2 linked regions of the Homo sapiens genome follow. Changing the gene in region 2 together with the main gene of any one other region gives a genetic interaction. Each region holds a gene or a part of one and is shown on either strand. Other genes may lie near its edges. The genes, in order: CIT and HBS1L.

Region 1 (3,822 bases), on a different chromosome or scaffold from region 2:
CTCAAAAAAAAAAAAAAAAAAAAAAAAGGCAGCTTAGCAGCTTCCACTTTTGGGAAGCCAGCCACCATGCACAGATGCTTGGGCTAGACCAGGGGTGTGCAATCTGTAGCCCTTGGACCAAATCCAGCCCACGGACTTTTTATAAGTTTTACTGGAACACAGCTACACCCATCATTTACATATTGTCTTTAGCTGCTTTTGTGCTACCATGGCCAAGTTGAGTGGTTGCAACAGAGACTACAGGACCCACAAAGCCTAAAATATTTATTACTTACAAAAAAAGTTACGAGTCAGCCAGGTGCAGTGGCTCACACCTGTAATTCCAACACTTTGGGAGGCCGAGGCAGGCGGATCGCGAGGTCAGAAGTTCGAGACCAGCCTGACCAACGTGGTGAAACCCCATCTCTACTAAAAATGCAAACATTAGCCGGGCGTGGAGGCACGTGCCTGTAATCCCAGCTACTCGGGAGGCTGGGGCAGGAGAATTGCTTGAACCCAGGAGGCGGAGGTTGCAGTGAGCAGAGATCGTGCCACTGCACTCCAGCCTGGGCGACAGGGCGACAGTCTGTCTTAAAAAAAAAAAAAAAGTTACGAGTCCTGGGCTATACTACTGAAAGACCTCATGGAGAAGAGAGGCCATGTGAGAAACACTAAGGTGCCCCAGCCAGCAGTCAGCACCCACATGTTCCAGTCCCAGACATAATCCCAGCTGAATGTAGCCCCACAAGTGACCCCAGCTGACATCACAGGATGAAGCAGAACTACCTAGCTGAGTCCAGCCAACCCACAGAATCCTAAGAAAAAATAAATCATTGTTGCTTTAAACTTTGTGAGTGCTTTGTTACACAGCACTTGATAACAGAAACAGACCGGCTGCATTTGAATCACAACAGCACTGGAGAATTTAAGAAAAACAAACAAACAAACAAACACATTCTCTGGTCCTATGCCCCCCTCCCCCACAACCAAATGAATTAGAATTTTCCAGACTGTAGCCTAGAATCTGTTTTATTAACAAGTTCCCCAGCAGGGAGAGGTGGCTCACACCTGGAATACTAGCACTTTGGGAGGCCAAGGTGGGAGGATCACTTGAGCCCAGGAGTTCAAGACCAGCCAGGGCAACACAGCGAGATCCCATCTCTACAAACAAACAAAAAAAAATTAGCCAGGTGTAGTGCCATGGTCCTGTAGTCCTAGCCACTTGTGAGACTGAGGTAGAAGGATCACTTGAGCCCAAGAAGTAAAGGCTGCAGTGAGCCAAGATTGTGCTGCCACACTCCAGCCTGGGCAACAGAATGAGACCCTGGTCCCCAAGAGAGTCAGACCTCAATCAGGTTTGGGAAGCACTGCATTCAAGGCCACCATATCTGTCACTTTAGTAATAGTTGCCAGTAACTCAGAAAAATAAAATGCTTTGTTTCTTCTATTCTTCAAGAGTTTAGATCAATTAAAGCAGGGGTTCCCAAATATAGTACTGGTTCTTAACAAAGTTTTCAACAGCCTGCAGTGAAATGAGAAAAAATGAACACCACATGATATCTTTTTTATAAAACTAAATGTATTCAAATTTAAAAATGGTCCTTTATTCTGAGATGATGTTCTTCCTGTCTTGTTGTTTCTTAAAATGCCCTTTATGAAATACAAGGGCCAGAAAATAATAGGTCTTTCTTTTTATTTTTTTTTTATATATCCTTACTTGGCAAAATAAAAAGTTGGAAAACCTGTGTCTACCCAGCAATTTGGGAAATTTTGCTGGCTCAGAAAGTCTGACAATCACTGACCTCGAACATGTCAGGAAATCCTGTTGAGTAGAAGTAAAAAAGACAAAATGACACTCAGTCTAAGGTACTCACCTGAATGGAAAACAAAATTGCTACTGTATCTCAACCTCATTCAAACAGCACTATATGGGAAAAGAACAAACAGCATCCTTACCTGATAACTCAAGGCAAATGATAGGTATATACTATACTTGCAATAATAGCTTTACTGGGCAGGGGGATCTCAGCATTAAAAAGAGATGAACTGAGGGTTTACCCATAAGTCTTCCTGTTATAATGACTAAATACAAGATATACTTAATAAATTCTGACGTGCACAGGTGCTGTGGCCCAATGGCTATGTGGTCAGCCTTTGGAGTCAGACCAACCAAAGATGGAGTCTGATCTTGGCCTCATCTGCAAAACCCAACGTGTATGATCTTGGGCAAGGCCTTACCTACCTCCATATCTGTCTATATCTGTTGCCTCCTATTTATGTATTTATTTAGAAACAGGGTCTCGTTCTGTTGCCCAGGCTGGAGTGCAGTGTTGCAATCTCAACTCACTACAACCTCTGCCTCCGGGGCCCCAGAGATGCCCCCACCTCAGCCTCCTGAGTAGCTGGGACTACAGGCACACACCGCCATGCCTGACTAATTATTTATATTTTTTGTAGAGATGGGGTTTCACCATTTTGCCCAGGCTAGTCTTGAACTCTTGGACTCAAGCAATCCACCTGCCTCAGCCTCCCAAAGTACTGGGATTACAGGTGTGAGCCACCACACCTGGCCTGTTGCCTCCTATTTAAAGTTTAAATTAAAAATAGTCCTTACCTCTGTCATGAGGCTGAAGTGAGATACTCAGAAACATGCCAGTTCTATGCCAGACACATTGGAAGCCATAACTATTACATAATCAGCACACTATAAGCCCTTAATAAGTTGGAAATTTTTTTCCTTTTCTTTTTTTTTTTTTTTTTAATTTACAGGGTCTTGCTCTGTCGCCTAGGCTGAAGTGCTGAAGTGCAGTGGCACAATCTTAGCTCACTGCAACCTCTGCCTCTAGGGCTCAAGTGATCCTCCTGCCTCAGCCTCCCGAGTAGCTGGGACTACAGGCACACACCATCACAGTCAGCTATTTTTTGTGTTTTTAGTAGAAACGGAGGGGCTCACCATGTTGCCCGGGCTGCTCTCGAACTCCTGACCTCAAGCAATCCACCCACCTCAGCCTCCCAAATTGCTAGGATTACAGGCGTGAGCCACCACGCCCAGCAAGTTGGAGATATTTTAAAGTAGCATGATAAAGGGGCTGAAACGTGGCAGCACTCCAGCCATCTAAGGTTAAAGACAGACTATTCATTTGTGAAAGATATGTCAAGACTTAAAATGCTGATGGGGATGGTCCCACAGAAAAACCTAAGCTTTCAATTTGTTTCCACTCTCATCTGTTTAAACACCCAATACCAATATTTTGGAAAAAAAAAAAAGTTATCAAGAATACTTCATCATTCATCATCTTACAGGTATCCTACATAACTACCTTCCCAAATATAATTACTATTAAGGAAACAAATTTAGTATTAATATTATAACTAATACTATTCTATGCTGAGTATTAACAATAATTACCATTTTTTATAAGGAGTTTACTAAGAGCCAGGCAAGGTGCTAAGTGCTTTAAATCGAATATCTCATCTAATCCTCACAACAACCCTGTGGATTAGGTACTACAACCTCTATGTTATTTTTTTTGTTTTCTTTTGTTTTGTTTTGTTTTGAGATGGAGTCTTACCCACTCTGTCGCCCAGGCTGGAGTGCAGTGCACCATCTCGGCTCACGACAACCTCCGCCTCCCGGGTTCAAATGATTCTCCTGCTTCAGCTTTTCAAGTAGCTGGGATTACAGGTACATGCGACCACCATGCCCAGCTAATTTTCTATATTTTTAGTAGAGACAGGGTTTCACCACGTTGTCCAGGCTGGTCTCGAACCCGTGACCTCAAGTAATCCGCCCGCCTCAGCCTCCGAAAATACTGGCATTACAGGCTACAACCTATTTTAAAG
Region 2 (3,822 bases):
AAAGAAAACTAAAAAGCCACATACTTTAGTAATGTGCTTGTTAAACTGAGAGGTGAAAATTATTTAGGCTTCTACTATTGCATCATATACAATTACATTGTTTTCCAAAATTGGCAACTGTCCAGCTAATTTTTCTTACTAGGATAGAAAACAGGTCTGTGATACTATAAAGAACTAAAGACACCCACAAAGAAAGAGAAACCATTATGATACAAATTCTGGTTTATCAGAAGAGCTAAGGAATACTGTGACCTGCTTTACAGAGCGTTACCTTATATGTTTATAATGGAGACTATCCAAGACTGCAAGAAAATACACATTAAAAAGGCATGAAAATCCAGATATATTCTCCAATAATCAGATTGAAGACATCAGGGAACACAGTTTAATCTCGTTAATCTAGGACTTCCACAGGACTTTATAGGTTTGTAAAGAGTCATTATTTTGACACAGTTGATATATCTGCCATTTCACTAATTATTAAGGTGTCCTTTGGCTCTCCTACCCTAGCTACCCTAACATGATCTATACTGACACTCTAAAAGGACTTCAAAAGAAATACTATTCTTTGGCCAGACAGTAACAGAGACAGAGGAGTAACTGACTGCATTATAGCTACAGAATTACTTGTTTGCAGACTGTCTCATAAAAACATAATATGTAAAGTATAAAAATGAATTGTTTGGTAATTTGAATTTGCTGGTTATTTAGATTCTACACAGAAGAGGTTTTATGACAGTTACCTTTCCTTTGTAAGCTGACATGAAATTAAAAGTCTTACTCATAATTTTAATTCAAAATCAAGACAATTTGACAAATACTTAGGGAAGTGACAACTGAAACTTATCCCATAGAATAATCAGCTTATGATTTTTACTGTTGTTTTTCTGCATGGCTTTTATTTTGTTTCTTTTAAACATTCTTTTAATCTATTTCTATAAAATTCAGAAGAGTAAAAACAGTATGCAGATTACATCAAAAAAGTCAAAATAGTTCCCTGATATCTAAAAGCTATTTTCTAAAAATAATCTCTAAAGTATTTCATATGTTTTACAAATTCAACACATATTACACACTTATTTTAGAAGACTGTATGATTTCAAACTGAAAATTTTGAAATATAGTGACTACCTTTCCCTTTCTTCGCCAGTTTCATCCAAGACCCATGCATATGCAAACGAAGCTTTGCCAGCCTTTTTAGACTCCTGTTCATACTTATGCATAGTTCTTTTGTTTATATTACCCAGAAGATAAAGCATATGGCCCATCAGAGTACTTTTCCCAGCATCAACATGACCTAAAGAAAATTGATTCAGGATTAATACCAGGTACATTTCCAGATGTTCACATTGAGGCATTGCATAAATGTGTAATTCAATATTTCATGTCAGTGGTTTACAGTAATACCAGTATTTATCAAATGACAGTTAAAACATCTAATAGAAAAAAAAAAGAGCATATCTCTTTACAGACGGGGGGAATTTCTCAGATTTTTGGAAATTAAAATTGTCAACAAGACACGCCAATTTCAAAATGTTCACAAAATGAAAAATCCCACAATCAAGTGTAATGACCTCTTTGGTAACTTGGCATTATCTCTCCCCACATGACTAGAAAGCATTATGAGACTGTGCCTCCTTGCTCTCTGTCCATTCCACCCATGGAGAAACTCAGAGTTTCCATGCTGCCTCCAGACAGTGGGCAGGCTAAGGCATGGCTGGCTGACGATCCAGAGGGACAAAGAGCATTACCAATGACCACTAAGTTGAGTAGCTGCTTCCCTCCTTGCCGCTTCTCCAGTTCCGCCTTCACATCTATTTGCTGCCTCAGCTTGCCAGACTTTTTCACCGGTGCTGGGGTTGAACTCTGCTCTTCTGATGCTTGAATCGTGTGGGGTGGATTAGCAGATTTAGAAGCAGTCTCAAGAACATCGGAAGAAGCAATGGCATCTTCAATGGGCGGTCCTTTTTGAGGTGTGTGGAAACTATGACCATTTTCTTCAGAAGATACTCTACAGAAGGCAGATAGGAAAAAAGTATTTGAAACCAACTCTATTGATGTCCTACAATGACAGAAGGGCAGAGAAACTGTTTCTTCATAATCCTTTATGCTCCAGACCAGAAATAATCTCTGCTAAGTAGCTAAAGTCTGTTAAGGTGGAAATGATAAGTAGCTAGACTCAAACCACACAAATACAACCGTGGAAGATCCCATGAGAAAAACTGTACCAAAAATGAAGATAAGAAGAAAATAATGTTGAAAAATAACTGAAATTCAAAATCAAGCCCACAGTCTTGGCCATATAATCCATCCTATCAAAATCAATGGTATGAAGGAGATATTTTGTAAAATTGGCACCAAATATATTACTGGAGATGAATTAGTACTAAAATATAGTTTTACTTCAACTCATCCTTCCAACATGATAGACTTATGATCTTTTTTACTCAAATACTACCCCGAGGGGAGATATCTCTAAATGACTACAGTTCATAAACATTTTTGACAGTGGAGCTTTAATTCATTAATTCAACAAACACTTGATTTATTAAAAACTACAACATATACTAGGGACTGATGTCAAAAAGAAAATGACATAGAAATTAAAAAGTTAACTACCACTCTTAAAAGATTACAATCTAGTGAGGAACTCAGATATATAAAGGAGAAACAAGACTGCCCAGCTTAACTTATTCTTTCCTTAACAAAAGTAAACACTGATCTTAGTTCTTCATGAGCTCGTTGACACTCCACATAGAAACTAGTACCAGTGCAACTCTGAATAGCTATAAGGAATGTGACCTAATAATCAGACTATGATATGCCTCACTTTGCTTTAACAACTATGGATAAACAGAATTAGGACAAAGAGCAGGTTAAATTGGAAGTTATTAAGAATGAAACCAATTATATCCAACTCTATGTGGAGCTGGCAAAGAAAAACTACATATAGAAAGCAATTTATAATAATCATTTAAGATTGTAGCATGATGGATATGTGTAAGCACATCTATTTTCTTCTTGCCTATTATAACAAAAAATACATTGGTTTTTCCCTGTCAGGGCATTTTTATATGCCCAACATTAGCCCTTCACAATACGCCTCAGGAAAAGAGTCACAATAGTTATATTTGCAACTTTATTTAAAGCCACATATCCATTCTCATTTTATTTTGCTTTTTCAAATCTCCACTAACCAATTTAGGTGTTCATTTTTGAGCACTGCTTAGACAGATGCACTTCATCTTAAACTAGTAGGTAAAAACAGTAATATGCAGGAAATGTTCCCATACTTTTAAAGGATTCTAACAGGCTAAATTAAGTGAAATCAAACAGACTATAATTTGCAAATATTTGTTTGAATGACCACAGCTAGTTCTAAAACCAAAACTTGACAATTCTATACTTAGAAGAATTTTTAAAGCCCCACAAATTATAATACAAGTGATCTACTGTGACTAGACATAGGCTCTGGTCTGAATCAGACCTGGCAGAAATCACAATCTCGGGCCCCAGATCTTTTTGTTTTTAGCTGCAAAACATTTTCTTCAGAGGCAAGCTTGCATTAAATTCAATATGGAAAACAGATCAAAGCAGACAGCTATGGTGGACAGAGTGGGCAGGGGCTTGAAGCTCAGCTCCCCCACCAATCCAGGCAGCCCTCAGAGGGGCTGCCAGAATAGGAAGGGCTTCACAAAACAGGGCTGACTTGATCATTTCATCTGCAATTCAATAACATGAAAGGTTTGTTTTCCTCTGGCTTTCAGGATAGCATTTTCATTTAAGTAAATCTTTTTCTTTTCTTTTTTTTTTTTTTTTTGA

The links.
Region 1: changes in HBS1L (region 2) and CIT together harm fitness more than expected from each alone (negative genetic interaction), as found in Homo sapiens cells (one large-scale study listed by BioGRID).

What each region holds. Positions count from the first base shown.
Region 1 is NC_000012.12:119,870,547-119,874,368, forward strand, and holds part of CIT (citron Rho-interacting kinase), read right to left. Parts: intron 1-3,822. UniProt on the Homo sapiens protein: Plays a role in cytokinesis. Required for KIF14 localization to the central spindle and midbody. Putative RHO/RAC effector that binds to the GTP-bound forms of RHO and RAC1. It probably binds p21 with a tighter specificity in vivo.
Region 2 is NC_000006.12:134,995,646-134,999,467, forward strand, and holds part of HBS1L (HBS1-like protein), read right to left. Parts: intron 2,012-3,822; coding exon 1,752-2,011; intron 1,298-1,751; coding exon 1,132-1,297; intron 1-1,131. UniProt on the Homo sapiens protein: GTPase component of the Pelota-HBS1L complex, a complex that recognizes stalled ribosomes and triggers the No-Go Decay (NGD) pathway.